Linked DNA regions of Homo sapiens: region 1 is linked to region 2. A link means that fine-mapping ties the variant in region 2 to the expression of a gene that starts in the linked region. Tissue or cell type: cerebral cortex. Region 2 holds a variant in brackets; the other region holds the start of a gene. All regions are shown on one strand. Distances are from middle to middle.

Region 1 (8,000 bases), 280 kb after region 2:
AGGGAGCTACGAGGGCCAAGAGCATGAGGTCATGGAAACTCGGGCTGTGAAGGGGCCGCACGTGCCCTGGGAACGGGATGAACTCGGCTCGTTTATTTCCACCCAGTTGTCATGGCGATAGGGGAGGGGGGCAAGGAGAGCAATGGGCCTTTCCCTTTCAAGGACCTGCCCAGTACAGGCATCCCTGTGAAAGATGCCTGAGGCCTGGGCACCAGGGACTCCAGAGTCCAGGCCCAACCCCTCCCCATTCAACCCAGGAGGCCAGGCCCCAGCCCTTCCGCCCTCAGATGAAGGAGTCCAGGCCCCCAGCCTCTCCCCATTCAGACCCAGGGGTCCAGGCCCAGCCCCGCCTCCCTAAGACCCAGAAGTCCAGGCCCCCAGCCCCTCCTCCCTCAGACCCACGAGTCCAGGCCCCAGCCCCTCCTCCCTCGGACCCAGGAGTCCAGGCCCCCAGTCCCTCCACCCTCAGACCCAGGAGTCCAGGCCCCAGCCCCTCCTCCCTCGGACCCAGGAGTCCAGGCCCCAGCCCCTCCTCTCTCAAACCCAGGAGCCCAGGCCCCCAGCTCTTCTCTGTTCAGCCCTAAGAATCCTGGCTCCAGCCCCTCCTACTCTAGCCCCCAACCCCCTAGCCACTAAGGCAATTGGGGTGCAGGAATGGGGGCAGGGTACCAGCCTCACCAAGTGGTTGATAAACCCACGTGGGGTACCCTAAGAACTTGGGAACAGCCACAGCAGGGGGGCGATGCTTGGGGACCTGCCTGGAGAAGGATGCAGGACGAGAAACACAGCCCCAGGTGGAGAAACTGGCCGGGAATCAAGAGTCACCCAGAGACAGTGACCAACCATCCCTGTTTTCCTAGGACTGAGGGTTTCAGTGCTAAAACTAGGCTGTCCTGGGCAAACAGCATAAGCTGGTCACCCCACACCCAGACCTGACCCAAACCCAGCTCCCCTGCTTCTTGGCCACGTAACCTGAGAAGGGAATCCCTCCTCTCTGAACCCCAGCCCACCCCAATGCTCCAGGCCTCCTGGGATACCCCGAAGAGTGAGTTTGCCAAGCAGTCACCCCACAGTTGGAGGAGAATCCACCCAAAAGGCAGCCTGGTAGACAGGGCTGGGGTGGCCTCTCGTGGGGTCCAGGCCAAGTAGGTGGCCTGGGGCCTCTGGGGGATGCAGGGGAAGGGGGATGCAGGGGAACGGGGATGCAGGGGAACGGGGCTCAGTCTGAAGAGCAGAGCCAGGAACCCCTGTAGGGAAGGGGCAGGAGAGCCAGGGGCATGAGATGGTGGACGAGGAAGGGGGACAGGGAAGCCTGAGCGCCTCTCCTGGGCTTGCCAAGGACTCAAACCCAGAAGCCCAGAGCAGGGCCTTAGGGAAGCGGGACCCTGCTCTGGGCGGAGGAATATGTCCCAGATAGCACTGGGGACTCTTTAAGGAAAGAAGGATGGAGAAAGAGAAAGGGAGTAGAGGCGGCCACGACCTGGTGAACACCTAGGACGCACCATTCTCACAAAGGGAGTTTTCCACACGGACACCCCCCTCCTCACCACAGCCCTGCCAGGACGGGGCTGGCTACTGGCCTTATCTCACAGGTAAAACTGACGCACGGAGGAACAATATAAATTGGGGACTAGAAAGGTGAAGAGCCAAAGTTAGAACTCAGGACCAACTTATTCTGATTTTGTTTTTCCAAACTGCTTCTCCTCTTGGGAAGTGTAAGGAAGCTGCAGCACCAGGATCAGTGAAACGCACCAGACGGCCGCGTCAGAGCAGCTCAGGTTCTGGGAGAGGGTAGCGCAGGGTGGCCACTGAGAACCGGGCAGGTCACGCATCCCCCCCTTCCCTCCCACCCCCTGCCAAGCTCTCCCTCCCAGGATCCTCTCTGGCTCCATCGTAAGCAAACCTTAGAGGTTCTGGCAAGGAGAGAGATGGCTCCAGGAAATGGGGGTGTGTCACCAGATAAGGAATCTGCCTAACAGGAGGTGGGGGTTAGACCCAATATCAGGAGACTAGGAAGGAGGAGGCCTAAGGATGGGGCTTTTCTGTCACCAATCCTGTCCCTAGTGGCCCCACTGTGGGGTGGAGGGGACAGATAAAAGTACCCAGAACCAGAGCCACATTAACCGGCCCTGGGAATATAAGGTGGTCCCAGCTCGGGGACACAGGATCCCTGGAGGCAGCAAACATGCTGTCCTGAAGTGGACATAGGGGCCCGGGTTGGAGGAAGAAGACTAGCTGAGCTCTCGGACCCCTGGAAGATGCCATGACAGGGGGCTGGAAGAGCTAGCACAGACTAGAGAGGTAAGGGGGGTAGGGGAGCTGCCCAAATGAAAGGAGTGAGAGGTGACCCGAATCCACAGGAGAACGGGGTGTCCAGGCAAAGAAAGCAAGAGGATGGAGAGGTGGCTAAAGCCAGGGAGACGGGGTACTTTGGGGTTGTCCAGAAAAACGGTGATGATGCAGGCCTACAAGAAGGGGAGGCGGGACGCAAGGGAGACATCCGTCGGAGAAGGCCATCCTAAGAAACGAGAGATGGCACAGGCCCCAGAAGGAGAAGGAAAAGGGAACCCAGCGAGTGAAGACGGCATGGGGTTGGGTGAGGGAGGAGAGATGCCCGGAGAGGACCCAGACACGGGGAGGATCCGCTCAGAGGACATCACGTGGTGCAGCGCCGAGAAGGAAGTGCTCCGGAAAGAGCATCCTTGGGCAGCAACACAGCAGAGAGCAAGGGGAAGAGGGAGTGGAGGAAGACGGAACCTGAAGGAGGCGGCAGGGAAGGATCTGGGCCAGCCGTAGAGGTGACCCAGGCCACAAGCTGCAGACAGAAAGCGGCACAGGCCCAGGGGAGAGAATGCAGGTCAGAGAAAGCAGGACCTGCCTGGGAAGGGGAAACAGTGGGCCAGAGGCGGCGCAGAAGCCAGTAGAGCTCAAAGTGGTCCGGACTCAGGAGAGAGACGGCAGCGTTAGAGGGCAGAGTTCCGGCGGCACAGCAAGGGCACTCGGGGGCGAGAGGAGGGCAGCGCAAAGTGACAATGGCCAGGGCCAGGCAGATAGACCAGACTGAGCTATGGGAGCTGGCTCAGGTTCAGGAGAGGGCAGGGCAGGGAAGGAGACAAAGTCCAGGACCGGCTGGAGGGGCTCAACATCGGAAGAGGGGAAGTCGAGGGAGGGATGGTAAGGAGGACTGCATGGGTCAGCACAGGCTGCCAAAGCCAGGGCCAGTTAAAGCGACTCCAATGCGGAAGAGAGTAGGTCGAAGGGGAATGGTAAGGAGGCCTGGGGCAGAGTGGTCAGCACAGAGTGGCTAAGCCCAGGGCCAGTTGAAGCGGCTCCAATTCGGAAGTGGGGTGGTCGAAGGGGAATGGTAAGGGGGACTGGGACGGGGTGTCAGCATAGGGTGGCAAAGCCCAGGGCCAGGAACGACGGGGCGGATCGAGACTGGCAACGGGGAAGGAGGATGCCCCAGGTGGCGCAGCAGAGGGTGGACCTGGCCCCGGGAGACGCCGGGCGGGGGGCGCTGACCTGGTGCAGGGCGCTGATACCGTCGGCGTTGGTGGAGTCCAGCACGGCGCGGGCGGGCGGCGGCGCGGCGGGGTCGAGCTCGGCGCCGGGGCCAGGGTCGGCGGCGCGCAGCATCAGACGCGCCTCGTCCAGGTCGCCGCCCGCACAGGCCGCCAGGAACTCGGCGGCGCGCTCGAAGCGGACGGTGCGGGCGCGGCGCTCTCCGGGGCCAGGCTCGGCGCCCGCCCGCGCCCCCCACTGCCGCAGCTGCTCCCGTCGCCGCTCCCGGGCAGCCGCCGCCGCCGCCCCCGGGCCAGCCGCCGGGCCATCCTCTCCGGACATCGCACCGCCCGCCCGCCCAGCGAGCGAGCGAGCGCCGAGCCCCAACCGCCGCCACCACCCGCCCGCCCGCCCGCCCCGGGGGCCGCCGGGAACTGCCGCTGGCCCCCCACCGCCCCAAGGATCTCCCGGTCCCCGCCCGGCGTGCTGACGTCACGGCGCTGCCCCAGGGTGTGCTGGGCAGGTCGCGGGGAGCGCTGGGAAATGGAGTCCATTAGCAGAAGTGGCCCTTGGCCACTTCCAGGAGTCGCTGTGCCCCGATGCACACTGGGAAGTCCGCAGCTCCGAGGCGCCCAGTGGAAATCGCCAGATGAGGGCCTCCTCCGGGGAATGCTGGGAAATGGAGTCTACAGGCCGGAGGGGTGCCCCACGGCATACTAGGAAGTGTGTAGCACCGGGTAAAGGGGATGAATAGCAGACTGCCCCGGGGCAGTTAGGAATTCGACTGGACAGCCGCGTGGGAGGGAGTGCGGGGAGAGGCAGAGTTGTTTTGTTATTGTTGTTTTATTTTGTTTTCTTTGTTTTGAGACGGAGTCTCGCTCTGTCGCCACGCTGGAGTTCAGTGGCGCGATATCGGCTCGCTGCAACCTCCGCTTCCCAGGTTCAAGCAATTCTGGCTCAGTCCCCAGAGTAGCTGGGATAACAGGCGCGCGCCACCCCGCCCTGCTAATTTTTATATTTTTAGTAGAGACGGGATTTCACCATGTTGGCCATGATGGTCTTGATCTCTTGACCTCATGATCCGCCCGCCTCGGCCTGTAATCCTGCTGGGATGACGAGCGTAAGCCACCATGCCCAGCTGGGTTTTATTTATTTTGGTTTTTTTCCTGACCCCTTAACTAGAAATAAGCTCCACGAGAGCGGGATCTTTTGTCTTCTGTGCACTACTTGTCCTCGGTTCTTAGAACAGAACCTGAGAGAACCTGATCGCAAATATTTTTGGAATGAATGAATGAATGGGTTCACCAGGGCACCATGGGAAACTGAGTCCGCAACCTAGAAGCCATGAAAGACAGTCCACTTCCAAGCTTCCCTGGGTGACCTCGCAGGGCATGCTGGGAAATGAAATTTGCGGTGAAAAGGTCAGGACCACGATCCTAGGGCACGCTGGGAAATGTAGCCCACAGGGCCACACCCCTAAAAGCACAGTGGGGTGCAAGGCAGGGCCCCAAGGCATTTAGGGCTCGGGGCAAGAGAAATCCACACTCCACTCCCTAATGGTAATCCCTGAGCCACACCGAGTAAAGGAACCCAAGACACAGTGTCCACAGGGACAGGGCTCTCAGAGCTTTCACTGGCCCGCGCTTCTCCTGCGCCCACCCGGACCTCCTGGGAACCGCCCAGGCCCTCGCGCGCTCTCAAGGCATGCTGGGATTGGTGGTCCCGGGCAAGGAGTTCCAGCAGGTGGGGGGCGAATCACCTTTCAGCGGGCCCAAGCGATGAGCACACCTTGATCTTCACCTTACGGATCCCGCGCCCAACTCAAGATTGGGAAGGTGGCTGGCACTTTGTGACAGGAAGAGTCCCATAAAAATCATACAGAAAAGGGCCAAAATCGGGACAGAGACTACAGACTGTTTCCCAAGCGCTGTGGGAGTTTCCCACCCACTCTGAAGTCCTTGGGTTTGCGCGGAGACGTAAACTGCGCATCCCACGAGGCCTGTTTCTTTCCCTCTCTCTTTCTCTTTTGTTGTTGTTGTTGCTGCTGCTGTTACGAAAATTTTTGTGGTTTTATTGTATCATGAGGCATTGAAACATCCGGCGACTCAATGTCTAGGCGGTGAGGCAGCCGCTTTCTCCTTCACTTTCTTTGGGTTAAGTAGAGCAACTTGTCAGTAGTTTTGTTTTTTTTTGTTGTTGTTGTTGTTTTTGAGACGGAGGCTTGCTCTGTCGCCCAGGCTGGAGTGCAGTGGCGCGATGTCGGCTCACTGCAAGCTCTGCCTCCCGGGTTCAAGCGATTCTCCTGCCTCAGCCTCCTGAGTAGCTGGGACTACAGGCGTGCTCCACCACGCCCGGCTAATTTTTGTTTTTTAGTAGAGACGGGGTTTCACCATGTTGGCCAGGCTGGTCTCGAATTCCTGACCTCGTGATCCGACTGCCTCGGCCTCCCAAAATGCTGGGATTACAGGCGTGAGCCGCCGCGACCGGCCAGATTTTTTTTTTTTTTAAAGGACAACCTTTTGCATTACTTAAGTCTTTCCAAGGCATGCGCTGGTACAACACAAACTTTTCCCATTACATGCAGCTAGTCTAGTGTCCAGACGTCATGCACAACACCTCCGTGGCATCAGCGCACTGCGCCCACTCCCACTGCGACCCTGCTCATTTGTGCATCATATCTGGAGGAGTGGCAATAGTTCTGGAAAGAGGAGGGAAGAGGAGGCAGCGTGAGGGCCCGGTGGAGAGGAGGTCAGCTGAAGTTGTGCAGAGCAAGCCTGCATATCATTGGTGCAAACCCAAGCATCATTGCATCGCTGATGTTTTGTTTTGTTTGGTTTTGTTTTGTTTTTGAGACGGAGTCTCACTGTGTCGCCCAGGCTGGAGTGCAGTGATGTGATCTCGGCTCACTGCAACCTCCGCCTCCCAGGTTCAAGTGATTCTCCTACCTCAGCCTCCCAAGTAGCTGGGATTACAGGCGTGCTCCACGCCTGGCTAATTTTTGTATTTTTAGTAGAGACAAGGTTTCACCATGTTGGCCAGGCTGGTCTCGATCTCCTGACCTCAAGTGATCCACCCGCCTCAGCTTCCCAAAGTGCTGGGATTACAGGCATGAGCCACCACACCCAGCTGATGTTCTTTAGTAGGAATATCTGGTGGAACCCCAAGATGGGGTCTTCATCCGCCACGAAGCCTGTTTCTATAGAAAGGGATAGTTCTGGTGGCTCTTAGGTGTGGTCCCTGAACCCCACACTTTCCACATACTTACACACCAACCTCCTTCCCCCAGGAAAACAAGAAGTCGGTCTTCAGGGTGTTACCGTGTAGCTCTGGTTCTGTATGTATTCTGTGCCTTTATGTATAATTGTGTGTATTTGCAATCATGTCTGTGGCTGGATGTATGTTGTTTATGAGTTTGTGTTTATGGTTTGTTTTTGTTTGTTTGTTTGTTTGTTTTGAGATGGAGTTTCACTCTTGTCATCGCCCAGGCTGGATTGCACTGGCGCAATCAAAAAAGAGTAAAATAACAGAAATCAGAATGGGCTTATAATACTCTTACCCCTCTCCACACAGGACAGAAGAGTCAATTTTATACTTTTGTGGATGTTCTAACTTCACCTGCTTATCTGAACCATCTTTATGGTGCAGACTAATATCTATTTTTCTGCTGTTACAGAAGAAGTGGGAACATTTTCTTCTTATCTTTCTGAGGTTATTTACACCAGTGAGGAGGGCCTGCAGTTCCAAGGTTAAGCACCAACATTCCACTGTTACCATTGAGAGCAAAGAGCAGACCCTAGAAGTGAAAACAAAACCTTTACCACAGGAAGACAAGAGCAAAAGATGATGTTCTTGAGTGGCATATGAAGATGCTCACAGCCAACATCACATGCCTATCAGATATTTTATGTACATCATCTCATCAACTCCAGGAGGCAGAGACTAAGAGACTAGCCCCAGTCACAGAGCTAGAAATTGGCCAAGACAAGGTTCAATCTGAGGACTGTCAAATCCAGAACTGGAATTTCTTTTTTTTTTTTTTTTTTTTGAGATGGAGTCTCGCTCTGTCACCCAGGCTGGAGTGCAGCGGCATGATCTCAGCTCACTGCAACCTCCACCTCTTGGGTTCAAGCGATTCTCTTGGGACTACAGGTGCACGCCACCACGCCTGGCTAATTCTTGTATTTTTAGTAGAGACGGGGTTTCACCATGTTGGCCAGGATAGTCTCAAACTCCTGACCTCATGATCTGCCCGCCTTGGCCTCCCAAAGTGCTGGGATTACAGGCATGAGCCACTGCACCTGGCCTTAGAAGCCTCAGTTCCTGATGGCAGTTGGGATCTGCCTTTCCTTCCCTGGACTGCCTACCTCTTGTCTTTTAGGTTACATATGAGAAAACAAACCTCCAATTCACCAAAACTATTGTTATTTGGGGAGCTGTCTCTTACTATCAGCCAAACATAACTCCTCAATGACACTGTTAGTTTAGCACTGCCATTATAA
Region 2 (8,241 bases):
AAAATGAGGGAGGCAGAGAGACAGAGAGAGAGCAAACTCCAGAGTTGGGACTCTGGAATCTTGAGTCATGAGACAAATTATAGATAAAACTACAAAAATCCAGAATTTACATGTGTGGTTTTTGCTGATAAAGTACAATTCTAAGATTGTAAATAATTGCATAATCCTTCCCTGGGAATTTAAATCATTTGAACTGGTTCTGCTGTAATACTAGAAATACAAGCATGAACAATTCTAATGGTTTATTAGTCACAATGACTCTGAAAACACTAATAATACCTATTAGATATTTTGCATATTACACAGGAAGAAGAGTTCGAATCTCAGATAAAAACAATAAAAATTCATGAAAAGTCTTTCATGTTAGCACAGATTTTAGGCATCTCATGTTTGGGAGGTTGGATCTAAGACATGTTTTGAGTTGGTCATAGTGAAGGACGCGAGGTGTCAATTCTAGTGAGAGCAATTTCCAGGAAGCCATGTTCTGCTCTTGAGCGAGCACCCACTGGGCCTCATGCAAGGTAGAAAAAGCCTGCGTACGTCACCCTCCCATGATGTGGTCAACATGTAAACTGCATGGGCAGGGCGCCAAATAACATCCTGTGCGCTGCTGAGCTGAGCTGGGGCGCGGCCGCCTGTCTGCACCGGCAGCACCATGTCGCTCATGGTCATCATCATGGCGTGTGTTGGTGAGTCCTGGAAGGGAATAGAGGGAGGGAGCGTGGGGATGGAGATCTGGGCCCAGAGGTGGAGATATGGGCCTGGAGGTGGAGTTATGGGCCTGGAGTGGAGATCTGGGCCTAGAGATGGAGTGATGAGCCTAGAAGTGGAGATCTGCGCCTGGAGTGGAGATCTGGGCCTGGAGTGAAGATCTGGGCCTGGAGTGGAGATATGGGCCTGGAGTGGGGATAGGAACCTGGAGTGGAGAGAGGAACCTGGAGGAGAGATAGGAACCTGGAGGGGAGGTAGGAGCCTAGGGTGGAGATATGGGACTGGAGTGGAGATATGGGACTGGAGTGGAGATATGGGCCTGGAGTGGAGTTATGGGCCTGGAGTGAAGTTATGGGCCTGGAGGTGGAGATACGGGCCTGGAGTGGAGATATGAGCCTGGAGTGGAGATATGGTCCTGGAGTGGAGATATGGGCCTGGAGTGGAGATATGGGTCTGCAGTGGAGTTATGGGCCTGGAGTGAAGTTATGGGCCTGGAGGTGGAGATATGGGCCTGGAGTGGAGATATGGGACTAGAGTGGAGATAGGGGCCTGGAGGTGGAGATCTGGGCCTGGAGTGGAGATCTGGGCCTGGAGTGGAGATCTGGGCCTGGAGTGGAGATATGGGCCTGGAGTGGAGATATGGGTCTGCAGTGGAGATATGGGCCTGGAGGTGGAGATATGGGCCTGGAGTGGAGTTATGGGCCTGGAGTGAAGTTATGGGCCTGGAGGTGGAGATATGGGCCTGGAGTGGAGATATGGGACTAGAGTGGAGATAGGGGCCTGGAGGTGGAGATCTGGGCCTGGAGTGGAGATATGGCCCTGGAGTGGAGATATGGGCCTGGAGTGGAGATATGAGCCTGGAGTGGAGATATGGCCCTGGAGTGGAGATATGGGCCTGGAGGTGGAGATATGGGCCTGGAGTGGAGTTATGGGCCTGGAGTGAAGTTATGGGCCTGGAGGTGGAGATATGGGCCTGGAGTGGAGATATGGGACTAGAGTGGAGATACGGGCCTGGAGGTGGAGATCTGGGCCTGGAGTGGAGATATGGCCCTGGAGTGGAGATATGGGCCTGGAGTGGAGATATGAGCCTGGAGTGGAGATATGGCCCTGGAGTGGAGATATGGGCCTGGAGTGGAGATATGAGCCTGGAGTGGAGATATGGCCCTGGAGTGGAGATATGGGCCTGGAGTGGAGATATGGGCCTGGAGTGGACATATGGGTCTGGAGTGGAGATACGGGCCTGGAGGTGGAGATATGGGCCTGGAGTGGAGATATGGGCCTGGAGGTGGTGATATGGGCCTGGAGTGTAGACATGGGCCGAGTGGAGATATGGGTCTGGAGTGGAGATATGGGCCTGGAGTGGAGATATGGGACTGGAGTGGAGATATAGGCATGGGGTGGAGACATGGGCCGGGAGTGGAGATATGGGACTGGAGTGGAGATACGGGCGTGGGGTGGAGATATGTGCCTGGAGGTGGAGATATGGGCGTGGGTTGGAGATATGGGCCTGGAGTGGAGATATGGGCGTGGGGTGGAGATATGGATCTGGAGTGGAGACATGGGCATGGGGTGGAGATATGGGCCTGGTGTGTAGATATGGGCCTGGAGTGGAGATATGGCCCTGGAGTGGAGATATGGGCCTGGAGTGGAGATCTGGGCCTACGGTGGAGATATGGGCCTAGGATGGGGATATGGGCCTGGAATGGAGATATGGGCCTGGGTGTGGAGATATGGGACTGGAGTGGAGATATGGGCCTGATGTGGAGATATGGGCTTGGAGTGGAGATATGATCCTGGAGTGTAGTTATGGGCCTGGAGGTGGAGATCTGGGCCTGGGGTGGAGATATGGGCCTGGAGTGGAGATATGGGACTGGAGAGGAGATATGGGACTGGAGTGGAGATATGGGCCTGGAGTGGAGATATGGGCCTGGATTGGAGATATGGGCCGAGGGTGGAGATCTGAGCCTGGATTGGAGATGTGGGCCCGGATTGGCTATATGGGTCTAGGGTGGAAATATCGGCCTGGAGTGGAGATATGGGCCTGGAGTGGAGATATGGGCTTGGGGTGGGGATATGGGCCTGGAGGCTGGGTCTCTGCACAGCCGAGAGCACTGTTCTTGGGTGCAGGTAGGCTCTGATGGTGAGTTTCCCTTCGGCCCAGGAAGGGGCTGGCTATCAAGACTCACAGCCCAGTGGGGGCAGCAAGGAAGGCCTTGTTTGCCTGCAAATGGATCTTCCATCATGATCTTTCTTTCCAGGGTTCTTCTTGCTGCAGGGGGCCTGGCCACAGGAGGGTAAGTCCTTCTCCAAACCTTAGGGTGTCATCTCCCCACATAAGAGGATTTTCCTGAAACGGGAGGGAAGTCCTGTCAGGGAGTCTCTCATAAACTAGGAAGAGGGGACCCTGGGGTGCTCGGCCCACAGTTCCGACCTTGCCTCCCTGGCCTCTCAACCCCTTGGCAGAGTCAAGTTGTGTGGGGACCAGGGTTGGACTAGGGTGTTCAAAGCTGGGTTGTGTGGTGGGGAAGTGGTAGGAACAGCAGATCCTCTGAGGACAAAGGTGTTACTCACACACTTCAGCGTTTCCATGACGGTAGGGGCTGCAGTGTGGCTGCTGTCATTCTACCAGAAGAGGTGGGAAACCACAGCCATGGCCCTGACATTCCAAATCCTCTGATGGGGGCTAAGTTTTTTATTTTCATTCAGGCAACTGCTGATATTCCATTCTCAAAGGACATGCCCTCCACTTCATGTCTACCCTGTGTTGTTTTATGTCAGTAATCTTACAGTATTAAAATCTAGTAGGAGTCTCTTACTCAGCACTTGCTCAAAGTTCTCAGCTGACACTTTTGTTGTACGGAGACACCTTGTCTTTGTGGGATGGGTCCTTCCTTTAGCCCTAGGCACCAAGGTGTGATAGCAGCCATAGAAATGTGGAAAGTGGGGAGAATCTTCTGAGCACAGGGAGGGAGGCACAGCTCCACATCCTCCTCTCTAAGGCGGCGCCTCCTTCACCCCAAGGTGGTCAGGACAAGCCCTTGCTTTCTACCTGGCCCAGCCTTGTGGTGCCTCCAGAACATGTGACTCTTCAGTGTCACTCTAATCTTGGGTTTAACAACTTCAGTCTGTACAAGGATGATGGGGTGCCTGTCCCTGAGCTGTACAACAGAATATTCTGGAAAAGCCTTTTCATGGGCCCTGTGACCACGTCACATGCAGGGACCTATACATGCCGGGGTTCACACACACACTCCCCCAGTGGGTGGTCGGCACCCAGCAACCCCCTGGTGATCGTGGTCACAGGTCAGAGGGCTCCTGTCTGGGATTCTCCTTGTCCCACCTCCTGAATCCCAGAGCTTCTGGTAGGCATGTCCTTGAGGGTCCCATCACGCAGGCCCTAACTGTATTTGGGGTAAAGGGGGATTGAATACAGGGAAATGGGTGCTGTGGTGGGAAGAATAAGTGTCCCCAGTGATGACTGCATTCTAATCCCTGGAGTCTGTGACTATTTATGTTATAGGGGAAGGGACTGAAGGGGAAGATGGAGCTCAGGTTGTTGATGAGTTGACCTTGAGATGGGGAGACAGCCTGGACTGTCCCGGTGGGCTCAGTATA[A/G]TCACAAGTGTCCACATGAAAGGAGGAGGAAGAGGAGAGTGGGGATTAGAGCAGCGTAGTGGGAGACTCCATCAGCTTTGAAGGTGGATGAAGGCCATAAGCCATGAATGCAGGTGGCCTATAGAGGCTGGGAAAGTCAAGTAACTGATTCTCCTGAGTCTCCAGAGGGAACACAGCCCTGCAGATGCCTTGATTTTAGCCCTCGAAAAACAGGGTCCGCTTTCTGTCTCCAGAATCGGAGGGGGTCAGTGTGCTCTCTCCTGCTGCCATGCTTCTGATAATTTTCTACAGCAGCAACAGGAAACCAACACTGGAACCCAGGTCAAGGACAAGTTAAGAAAAGACACAAGGATAGCCAGGCATGGTGGCAGGTGCATGTAATCCTAGCGACTCGGGAGGCTGAGAGCAGGAGAATCGCTTGAACCCAGGAGACAGAGGTTGCAGTGAGCGTAGACCACACCACTTCACTCCAGCCTGGGTGAAGGAGTGAGACTCTGTCTCCAAAATTAATTAATTAATTAAAGAAACCAAACAAAGAGAAGGTTGGCTACACCGAGATCAGCAAGGGTGGGATGATGATGCCACCACCAGGCTCCATCCACATAGGGAGGGGTTGATACTCCTCAAATCAGCACGAGGAGCCAGCCTATGGAAACTGGCACCATGGAGAAGGCACAGACATGGCAAGAGTGGCTCCCAGTCCCCACCAGGAACAGGGTGTGTGGACACTGGTGCCTGCCTTACTGATCAGTTCATACCTCCTGCCAAGGATTCCAATTCGTCCAAAAGAGATTGAACCAAGCTGCTAAGAGCCGGGACGTGCAGCCTATCCTGCTTCCTCTTCCACTCCCACATAGACAGTAAGAAAGACATTAGTGTGAAATAGATACAACAGCCCAAGAGATGAGGCTGAGCCCAGTGGGAAGGGAATCACAGCTACTAGAGACAGAGGGACAGAGAAGAGGGAGGGAGACAGATGGAAGGACCTGCACCAGGAGTTATGGGCACAGAAAAGAACATGAAGACACAGAGAGGAAGCAGAGAGACAGACACCAGCGAAGGGAAGGCTCACTCATTCCAGGTGCCATGGATGGGATGATAAAGAGAGACACCTTCTAAACTCACAACCTCTCTTCCTAGGAGTCCACAGAAAACCTTCCTTCCTGGCCCTCCCAGGTCACCTGGTGAAATCAGAAGAGACAGTCATCCTGCAATGTTGGTCGGATGTCATGTTTGAGCACTTCCTTCTGCACAGAGAGGGGAAGTTTAACAACACTTTGCACCTCATTGGAGAGCACCATGATGGGGTTTCCAAGGCCAACTTCTCCATTGGTCCCATGATGCCTGTCCTTGCAGGAACCTACAGATGCTACGGTTCTGTTCCTCACTCCCCCTATCAGTTGTCAGCTCCCAGTGACCCTCTGGACATGGTGATCATAGGTGAGAGTGTCCAGACATTCTTCTCATTGTCATTGGGATGCAGAGTGAATGATCCAGGACTTGGAGACCCAGGTGGTTGTAAGGAAGATGAGCTTGGTATTCTTATGGAGAGAGACTGACTTGGTGAGGTCTGTGCCAACAGAGACAGAGAAACAAGAGACACAAGTACAGACCAGGTGTCATAACAGAGGACAAACACAGGGGCCATACAGGGAGTTAGAAAAGACAGAAAGAGTTAAAGGAGACAGACAGACATGTCCCAGACAGAGGTGTCCTTCCATGCTGACTTTGCTCAGAGACCTGGCACAGGTTAGAAGTTTCATTTCTGTTTTACCTCCACAAAGTGTTCTCTACCAGGAGAACCCAAGGACACCCATATTTCTGACCTGAGTTGGGCCCTGTGGCCTCAGGCCTTGTGGCACCTACAGATGCCATGCTTATTCTGACACCTCTGACTTCCATGCAATGGAGAATAATCGTCCCAAAATATCATGGCCCCAGAACACCAACCCCTGTATGCTGTGTGAACTTGTGGTCTCCAGACTGGATTCTGAGGCTCACATTCCAAATAACCCCACATATCACATATGAGAGGATCACTGAGAAGCACAGAGAGAAATCAGGGACACCAAAAAGCAAAGACATAAACACACAGAGAAAGAGCCAGAGGAAGGAGATTGAGAGACTCACAGACACATAAAGAGAGAGAAGAGGGCAGAGAAGTGGAGAGAATGATGGAAGAGAGCAGAGAAAACCACTAAAATTAGAGTCCTGAGGGCGAGGCACAAGGGCATAGAAAGATGGAGATGTGGGGATGAATTGCAGAGATTCCAAAGAGAACTAGAGAGACCGAGAGGCAGAGCAAGACAGATGATAGATGGATAGATACAGATAGATGATGGATAGATATAGATAGATGATATATAGGTAGATGATAGATAATAGGTTATAGATACATAGATGATGATTGATTGATTCATTAATAGATGATACATAGAGATGATGATGATGAAGATAGATGGATAGATAATACATAGAGATAGAGAGGAAGACAAAGAGAGAAATAATAGAGAGAGAGAGATGATACATATATATAGATAATAGATGATTGACGGATAGACAATTGATAGATAAATAGATGATATATAGATATAGATGACAGGTAGAGAATTTGTAGATAGGCACCGAATAGATAAATAGATGGATTGATAGATAATAGATAGAAATATGCAGAAAGTTATGAACGGGACACAAACTGAGAAACTCAGAGTTAAAAAAAGTAACATCAAGTCAACCAATCCAAGGAGAGCCAGAGAGAATAAAACAATCCAAAAACGGAAAACATAACTAGAGGTAGGGAAGTGAGGTCAGAGACCTACAGAGACAGAGAAGGTGGAAGGAGGAAATAGACATGAAGAGAGATAGGGTGGAGGGTGAGACAGAGAAAGAGAGCATTAGGCCATAGAGCAGGGGAGTGAGTTCTCAGGTCAGGTGTGAGGGGAGCTGTGACAAGGAAGATCCCCCCTGAGGAAACTGCCCCTTCTCCTTCCAGGTCTATATGAGAAACCTTCTCTCTCAGCCCAGCCGGGCCCCACGGTTCAGGCAGGAGAGAATGTGACCTTGTCCTGCAGCTCCATCTATCCAGGGAAGGGGAGGCCCATGAACGTAGGCTCCCTGCAGTGCGCAGCATCAACGGAACATTCCAGGCCGACTTTCCTCTGGGCCCTGCCACCCACGGAGGGACCTACAGATGCTTCGGCTCTTTCCGTGACGCTCCCTACGAGTGGTCAAACTCGAGTGATCCACTGCTTGTTTCCGTCACAGGTGAGGAAACCCCATATCTGTCCCATGTCCTATGATCCTAGAGCCTTAGCTGAGGAGCTTCCTGCTGATGATGGAGAGAAGCATGGACAGATGCAGAGAGAAGACGCAGCATGCCTGTGAGGGAGGGATCAGGGCGCAGGATGGCACACACAGCACCTCCAAACCCTCCTGCATGGCCTGCATGGAGGCCTCCGATTAGGGCTCCAGAAACCCAGGCAGATGTAGAAAGCGGTCAGGAGAGACCCAGAGAAGGGGAGACTGGGCTCAGTTTGGGGAGATCAGAGGTTCCCTCAGCCCCTCAACCTTACCCATTTCCCAGAAGCCCTTCCTGGCCTCTCACCCACACAGAGATGTCATCACCAGCAACCCCTACATCCTTTTCTTTTTGTTTGAAAAAATATTCATTGAGGTTAAATATACCTATATAGCTTACCACTTTTAACATTTTTTTTTTTTTGAGGTGGAGTCTAGCTCTGTCTCCTATGCTGGAATGCAGTGGCACAATCTCAGCTCACTGTAACCTCCGCCTCCTGGGTTCAAGCGATTCTCCTGCCTCAGCCACCTGAGTAGCTGGTACTACAGGCGCCCATCACCACGCCGGGCTACTTTTTGTATTTTTAGTAGAGAGGGGGTTTCACCATGTTGGTCGAG

What was found. PIP is the estimated chance that this variant, and not a neighbour inherited with it, causes the effect.
Region 1: PPP1R12C starts here. The variant in region 2 is fine-mapped to the expression of PPP1R12C in cerebral cortex (GTEx, PIP above 0.99).

Annotation. Positions count from the first base shown.
Region 1 is chr19:55,113,701-55,121,700 of GRCh38, forward strand. It overlaps PPP1R12C (protein phosphatase 1 regulatory subunit 12C), which reads right to left and starts at 3,937. Exons shown (of 22, transcript NM_017607.4): 1 at 3,523-3,937. The coding sequence starts at 3,843. RefSeq lists enhancers at 1-154, 155-781, 2,333-3,168, 2,523-2,572, 2,973-3,052 and 2 more and silencers at 3,483-3,582, 3,603-3,682, 3,873-3,952.
Region 2 is chr19:54,832,110-54,840,350 of GRCh38, forward strand. KIR2DS4 (killer cell immunoglobulin like receptor, two Ig domains and short cytoplasmic tail 4 (gene/pseudogene)) reads left to right here and starts at 598. Exons shown (of 7, transcript NM_001281972.2): 1 at 598-689; 2 at 2,970-3,005; 3 at 5,467-5,766; 4 at 7,319-7,590. The coding sequence starts at 656. The variant A/G (reference allele first, on the strand shown) is at 4,327.